2 linked regions of the Homo sapiens genome follow. The protein of the gene in region 1 interacts with the protein of each later gene in a biochemical or structural test. Each region holds a gene or a part of one and is shown in the gene's direction. Other genes may lie near its edges.

Region 1 (3,826 bases):
AGTCTGGTTTATGATATAGCTGAAATACTTAAAAGGATGTTATATAGAAGAGGAATTAGGCTTTATTGTATATGGCAGCAGAAGGAAGAAGTAGAACAAATGGGTAGAAATGGAAGAATTGCTCAAAGTATGGAACGATTTTCTTACAGGAATATTCAAAATTAAGATTAGCTGCTTTATGACCTATGTAGGAATGCTATAGTAAGATAGTGGACTAACTGACCTCTAGGATTGTTTATAACACTGAGATTCCAGGACTTTATGATTGTATATCTACCAATTTATCTCATATATGTATATGTATATCCTTCTTTGTCTTTCTCAACTGTTATCTCAGAGGTTATAGTTTATGTCTGATATGCTGTAGCTCTCTCTAATGTATCGGTATGGATTCATTTTTATTTAAATATTCTCAGTCTTTATCACTGAAGATTTTACCTTTATTCCTCTCTTTTTCTTTCTCACCCTCCTATTAGATATATTATAGAGCTGCTCATTTTGTCCTCCTTTTCTCTGAACTTCTCTTTATTATTTTTCATCTGCTTATTCTTTCTTTAGCTGCTTAACTAGTACATTGAGGGTTTGTTGTTGTTGTTGTTGTTGTTTTGGTGGGGGCAGACAGAGTTGCACTGTGTCGCCTGGGCTGGAGCGCAGTGGCATAATCTTGGCTCACTGCAACCTCCGCCTCCCGGGTTCAGGCTCACTGCAACCTCCACCTCCCGGGTTCAAGTGATTCTCATGCCTCAGCCTCCTGAGTAGCTGGGATTACAGGCTTGCATCACCACACCTGGCTAACTTTTGTATTTTTAGTAGAGACAGGGTTTCACCGTGTTGGCTAGGCTGGTCTTGAACTCCTGGCCTCAAGTGATCACCTGTGTCTGCCTCCCAAAGTGCTGGGATTACAGGCATGAGCCATTGCACCTGGCCCTAACTAGTACATTGAGTTATTAATATCAGTGTTCATGGTAGTTTTTTGTTTCATTTTGTTTTGGGGCAGGGTCTTGCTCTGTCAACCAGGCTGGAGTGCAGTGGCATGAATATTAATACTGTTAGTAACAGCAATCCAAAAAACTATAATCCAAATGTCCATCAACAGCAGAATGAAAAATACATTTGGTATACAATGGAATATACATGCAAGTTGTAGCTATGCACAACAATTGAGAAAAATCTCAGAAACAACGTTCAGCAAAATCATATAAAACTAAATGGTATCTTATTTAGGACTATACTGACATTCGTGTTAAAGTTGTAAAGACAAGCAAAGGAATAAGGAACAAAATACAGTTTAGAAATCACCTTAGAGGGAAAAGGAAGGAGATGGGTTAGGTTGGACTACCCAGGAGACTTTAAAGGCAGGTAATGTTCTTATTTTAGACTGAATGGTGTTATATAAATGTTTGTTGTGTCATTCTTTTTACCATATACATATTTCCCAAATGTCTTTTGTACCTACCCAATATTAATAAAAAACATTTTAAAGACCTTAAAGAGTTTAAGTAGAATATATTTTGAAAGCAAATGAATCCAACTATAACCGAAGTATCAGTGTGATATCTTCTTTGAAGAAATAAATTTACTGAGTTTGGAGTTGACTATTTCAAATAATTATTGAATTTTCATTTGATTTGTTAATAGTAGTTTTTAAAAGTTTGAAGCAGCAATTTTGTTTTTAGATGCTAATATGATACATACTGTTCTTTTTTGTTTATAGCAGAAAATATTACATAAAAGTATTAAATTTCAAACATATTTTAAAAATTACAGTTCTCAAATCTCATCTATTCCCACCCCTATTTAGAAGCTCCATGATGACAGTTAAGCCCTGTGCTATCTTCTGTATTGATTGACATGACAGCAGTCTGCAGAGTTAGCTTGTGATTATGTACAGCTCAGGGTTACTGTAGGTTGTTCTTTGAAAATAGGACTTCAAGCAAAGCATCTTGTATTCCTTTTGCAGAAATGTTGCTGAAGTGCTGCTGAAAGGGCCAGAGATGCAAGGATTTGGGATACATTTTGAACCTTTAAGCTGTCTGACATTGACCTCCTTTCATTATTAATAAAGAAGAATCAGGAGCTTAGGATGTATTAACACCAACTCATTAATATACTAACCGGACAATGTTCTACAAACAATTCTACATTGTAAAGGACTGGATTGGCACAAAATAAAATAATTTTATTTTATTCAGCTTATAATATGACTCGATGGAGGAAAATTTGATAAGCATGAGAGAAGACCATTCTTTTCATGTTCGTTACAGGTAAGACTATTGCTGTCTTAATGGATGACTTTTAATCCTTATTTTAAAGTGTTTTTAACTCTGATGACCATTTCAAGTTTCAGTTGAAAATACTCAAATATACCAGCCATAGTATTGTCTGTAGACAATATTTTCTTTTTGTTGTAAGTTTTCCTTTCTGTAAGAAAATGATAGTAGAGACCAATTATGTACTATGGTTTGTTTAATGTTCTCTGGAAGAGTTTATGAATAATTTCTTTATAATTTGTAACTTTTTATGTAATGCAAATATGTAAATGAAATATGTTTGAAAATCTTTGGGGCTAAAAGGTGGATTTTTTAAAAATGTGGTCAGCTGAAGGACCAAACCTTTGCATTGTAATTTAATGTGATCTTTTAGACATGAACTTTTTATTTTTGATTTATTTTTATTTTTTGTAGTGTATTGTTTTGATTCCCTTCTCATTTCCTTTTTTTGTATATTTTTTATTTTATTAATTTTACTTTTTCTATATTATCAGAGATGGGAGTCTCACTATATTGCCCAGGCAAGTCTCAAACTCCTGGGCTCAAGCAATCCTCCTGCCTCAGCCTCCAGAGTAGCAGGAACTACAGGTGTGTGCCACTGCACCTGGCTTTTTATTTTATCTTTAAAGGAAATTTTATTTCACAACCATTATTACTGTTTTAAATATGTACCTAATCCACATTAATATAAATACATTATTATTAAAATACAAACAAGCGCTGTTCAAAAGAAATGTCATTTTTAAGCTTAATGTCTAGTGACATTTTGTGTTGTTTTGCTGATTTAATACTTAAGACCACATTTTTACATGAAGTAGTGGTTTGGTAATCCCTAATTTACTCCAGAAAGCAAGTCAGGCTGAGGAAAGGCACCCACATGCATTCTCTCACAAGCTTCACGGTCCCTAGGGAAATGGCCTGGCTCCTCTAGGACTTACAGTGTTCCCTTGGATGCCCAAATGGATTGTCTACATTCCTGGTAGAAGGTTGCAGATTGTAAGGACCAGTGTTCCCACCTTTGTTCTGCATCCACAAGTGTCTTTCACAAATACAACACACTCCCTTTGGCTACACCTTATATATAATAGGTTATGCACATGTATGTGTGTTGGTGGGGGTGGATGCTTCCCACTGATCTAGATCAGGATCCAAATCAGACATACACATCAGGAAAGGAGGGAAGATAGCCAGGAAGTGATAGCTGGGCAGAATGAAGGTACAGAATGGGCAGGTCTTCCTGATTTTTCAGAAGAGCCCAGGAAATCTGAAAATCTGAAGAGTGTGTGTGTGTGTGTTTTTGTGTTTTTGTTTTTTTTTTTTTGGAGACAGTCTCACTCTGACGCCCAGGCTGGAGTGCAGTGGCACGAGTTTGGCTCACTGTAACCTCCGCCTCCCATGTTAAAGCGATTCTCTTGTCTCAGCTTCCCGAGTAGCTGGGATTATAGGCGTGTGTCACCACGCCCAGCTAATTTTTTGTATTTTTAGTAGATACAGGGTTTTGCCATATTGACCAGGCTGGTCTTGAGCTCCTGGCCTCAAGTGATATGCCCGCCTTG
Region 2 (3,826 bases), 710 kb from region 1:
TGATTGCATAACATTGTGAATACACTAAGTGCCACAGAATTGTACACTTTAAAATGGTTAAATATCTGTTATGTTAATTTTCCTCAATAATTTTTTTAAAAGAGTATAGGTAGAGCAATTGATTTTTGAGCAAGAAGTAAGACACCTCTAAGACCAGAAGTACAAATAAGTGCAGATATGTAACATTTTGAGTGAGGTGGTAGGCCAAAAAGTTGAGATGTAGTTTAATCCTCATGGCCTCTGTTTTATCAAGGAAGTTGGAAATGTGGTTACCTGTTCAGAGTAAAGAACAGAGGGAGGTGAGAATAAGGTGAGTTTATAGAAAGCAACCAAGTTTTAGGATTGGGGGAGAGAGATGTAAGACAAGTAAAATAATTGGCATTAATGTTGAAGGCCCAGCTTAGAGTCTTCACACAAAGCAAAGAGCCTTTAATATCATTTCCATTTTCTTTGTTGTTGTTAACTTCCAAGCCTATCCTCCATTGTCTTCATTCTGTGTACAGATTCTTACGGTCCTTATTTGCCAGGTATTATTATCTGTTCCTAGCAGACAAAATTCACTTTTCACTCATCTGCCTCCTTTAATTTACAGAGGTTGTTTTCCAGATTTTAAGAACCTGCTTCAAGCACCTACAAAGCTGTTTTCCTTCAGTTCTTTAAATATTTTAATTAATATTCTTTTCCTTTCCTTTTTTTTTTTTGAGACAGTGTCTTGCTCTGTCTCCCAGACAGAAATGCAGTGGCATGATCTCGGCTCACTGCAACCTCCACCTCCCAGATTCAAGTGCTTCTTGTGCCTCAGCTCTACTACAGGTGCCCACCACCAGGCCTAGCTAATGATTTTTTGATTTTTAGTAGAGATGTGGTTTCACTAAGTTAGCCAGGCTGGTGTTGAACTCCTGACCTCAAGCGATCCACCTGCTGCGGCCCCCAAAGTGCAGGGATTACAGATGTGAGCCACCGCACCCAGCTCCTTTTTTCTTAAGCTCCGTTTTGTTACCTGGTCTTCTTTATATCTTTGTTATTGATATTTTTGTTATGCTTCACGTTACTGAAAATAGCCTGTAGTTTATTGGAATAATGAATTGTCTTTGTTGCGTTTCCCTGGCTTTATAGCCAGTTTCTAAGGCTACTCTAAAGGTTCTATAAGTAGACAAGATGGTGTAAAAAGCAGGTGATTTAAGGGTATTAATTACAAATATTGTTGAGACAGGCTTTGCTTTTGGTTCCTGTCACCTTTCTTTTTGTAAAAAATAATAGCTTCATTGAGATATAATTGGGAAACCCTAAAATTCACTCTTTTAAAGTGTATTGCTTTTCCTTATTTAAATTATTACCTTAAGGCTTTGAAGCTAAACCTCTTTAAAACTGTGGAATGATTTTGAAAAGAACAATTTACCTTGTTGAATTCCTTTTTTTTTTGTTTTAATACAAACAATCCCATAGCGTTTATTGCCATCTTTTAGTAACATAAGGGTAATCAAAACACTATGAATGAATGTTCATATTGGAAAAAGGACATCTAAAAGCAAACTGTATCCTTCTCAACAATTTCTCACTTCATTGATCCTTTCTAGTTGGAGACACTTTGTAGCAGAGTAATATTATCTCCTTTTAGCATGATCCGACCCAGTTGTTTTAAAAAATATGGAACGCTTCACGAATTTGCGTGTCATCCTTGCGCGGGGACTGTGCTAATCTTCTCTGTATTGTTCCAATTTTAGTACATGTGCTACCAAAGCAAGCACTACCCTGTTGAATTTTTATTCCAAGATCACTCCAAGGAACACAGCCTCTCTCAGACCTTTTAAGCAGTTGTGTTCCCTAGAAATGCACCTTCCTACTTTCCTAGTTTCCTTTTATACTTTCTAGATTTTTTTAGCTGAAAAGTCTAAATGAAAAGGTAAAGAGAAATTTAACGTTATGTTTTCCTCAATCTTTGTGTTTGATGATTTTATTTTGTTACCATGAGAGTCCACTCTCACGAAGAACCTAATTATAGAAACACCTAATGATTATAGAAATAGAGAATTCTACTCATATTTAATTGGGTTATGTTCCCTCTCCATAAGTAAATGGTAATGGTCTGACTTAGTTGAGTTCAGGCAGCTGTTACAATTTGAACTGAGAGTACTGGGTGTCCGTTTTAGGTTCCAATACATATGAAGAGGCAGCTGCCTATATTCAATGCCAGTTTGAAGATCTGAACAGAAGAAAAGATACCAAGGAGATCTATACTCACTTCACCTGTGCCACAGACACGAAGAATGTGCAGTTTGTTTTTGATGCTGTTACAGATGTCATCATTAAAAACAACTTAAAGGAATGTGGACTTTATTGAGAAGCATGGATGTTAGTGAAAGGTAAAGTTTCATACAAGGTAGTTATAGTGCTACAGTGATGTCTCTTGGTTTTTAAACTTTTTCTAATTAAGAATATTCTTCTCTTCTAGTTACTACAGTGTGGAGTGTTGAGACCAGACACCTTTTGCTGTCTCATGGGGCAGCTACAAGCATGAACGGGACCAGGGAATGGCAGCAGCATGCAGAATCTTAGCACTCTTTAGCACAATATTTTGTATTAGGGAACTTTTAATTGACATGAGATGCTAAAGTCAGACATTGGAATTGGAAGAACTATAAAGTGTGATTCGATCGTCAAGACATCACTTGGATTTCTTAATCTTAAATGCTTATGGAAGATGTGAAGTTGAGGTGCTGCATTCTAGAACTTCAATATGTAGCTTACTCTTTTTTTCCCCCCTTCTTAAACCACCAGTGGTTCATTTTTAAGGTTTTTTCATCAAGAGAAGAATAACTTTACTAAATTTTATTTCTTTATTTGCAAAAGAATCTTTATTAAAACAAACAATCTTAACTATGCACATGATGTGACCAGATCATCTTGAAAATATTCCTCTTTAGTAGGAACTCTTTGTTTTTAACTCTTGGTATGGTCAGAATATAATACTTCCATAATTACTTATAATTCTTTCCGGTTACTGGGGCTATAAATACAACTTTTTAAATGAAATTTATGTTATTATCCTGCTCAAAGTACCATTATGGTTTCCATATGGTAATTACATTGGAAAGTTCTGCAATAAGATTCTAGTTCTCTCTTTTCTTTAAGCTTATGGTTGAAGGTTAACCTTGTTTGTGCAGATTACCAAATTACTGCTGATGTAGTATGATAAAGTCAGCTTCTTGGATACAGACACACCCAGGGCAGCTGCCAATCAGAAATGCAAATTGCTAAATTCCAAACAGAACCAGTGACTTTGCTGCTACATATTTACTAAATTGACCACTTTGATTCTTGCTTGTTTGTCTCAGTTATAGGGAGTTTTGTACATGGTGCCTCTTGTTTTCCATCTTCATGGCCTTTTCTGTTGAGAAACATCTAAAGTGTATTAACAGTGCATGCTTTTACTTTGTAAATGTGGTGCCAAATCCCTGTTTGCCATCGTTTTTACTGTACCGATGTTAACTGTAGTAATCCTTAGCCAGTATGTTCTTTTGCTGAAACTGTTGCATTTTGGGACTTTTTTCCACTTTGTCATGTGTACATTTTTAATCTGTTATAGTTGGCGGCAGTATTAAAATGGTGAGTAAAGAGCCCAGGTTTGCTCCTGTTTGTAACTAGTCTTTTCTGGAAATACTGTCTTCTGTTTCCTTTTGCCTTTGCAGAATGTGCTTTAGCCTTTGTCTGAGAATGGGTTTAGGTAGAAGGGTTTCCTGAAAGTCTAGTCTTTTGGTGTAATAGTATTGTTGAACCTTAGGTTTTATGTTATATCTGCATATGAGTGATATGTGATCATGATTCA

The links.
Region 2: the proteins of GPSM2 (region 1) and GNAI3 form a complex in vitro, tested with the Homo sapiens proteins (one study listed by BioGRID).

What each region holds. Positions count from the first base shown.
Region 1 is NC_000001.11:108,883,315-108,887,140, forward strand, and holds part of GPSM2 (G-protein-signaling modulator 2), read left to right. Parts: intron 1-1,960; 5' UTR 1,961-2,208; coding exon 2,209-2,264; intron 2,265-3,826. UniProt on the Homo sapiens protein: Plays an important role in mitotic spindle pole organization via its interaction with NUMA1. Required for cortical dynein-dynactin complex recruitment during metaphase. Plays a role in metaphase spindle orientation.
Region 2 is NC_000001.11:109,589,893-109,593,718, forward strand, and holds part of GNAI3 (guanine nucleotide-binding protein G(i) subunit alpha-3), read left to right. Parts: intron 1-2,150; coding exon 2,151-2,341; 3' UTR 2,342-2,363; intron 2,364-2,452; 3' UTR 2,453-3,826. UniProt on the Homo sapiens protein: Heterotrimeric guanine nucleotide-binding proteins (G proteins) function as transducers downstream of G protein-coupled receptors (GPCRs) in numerous signaling cascades.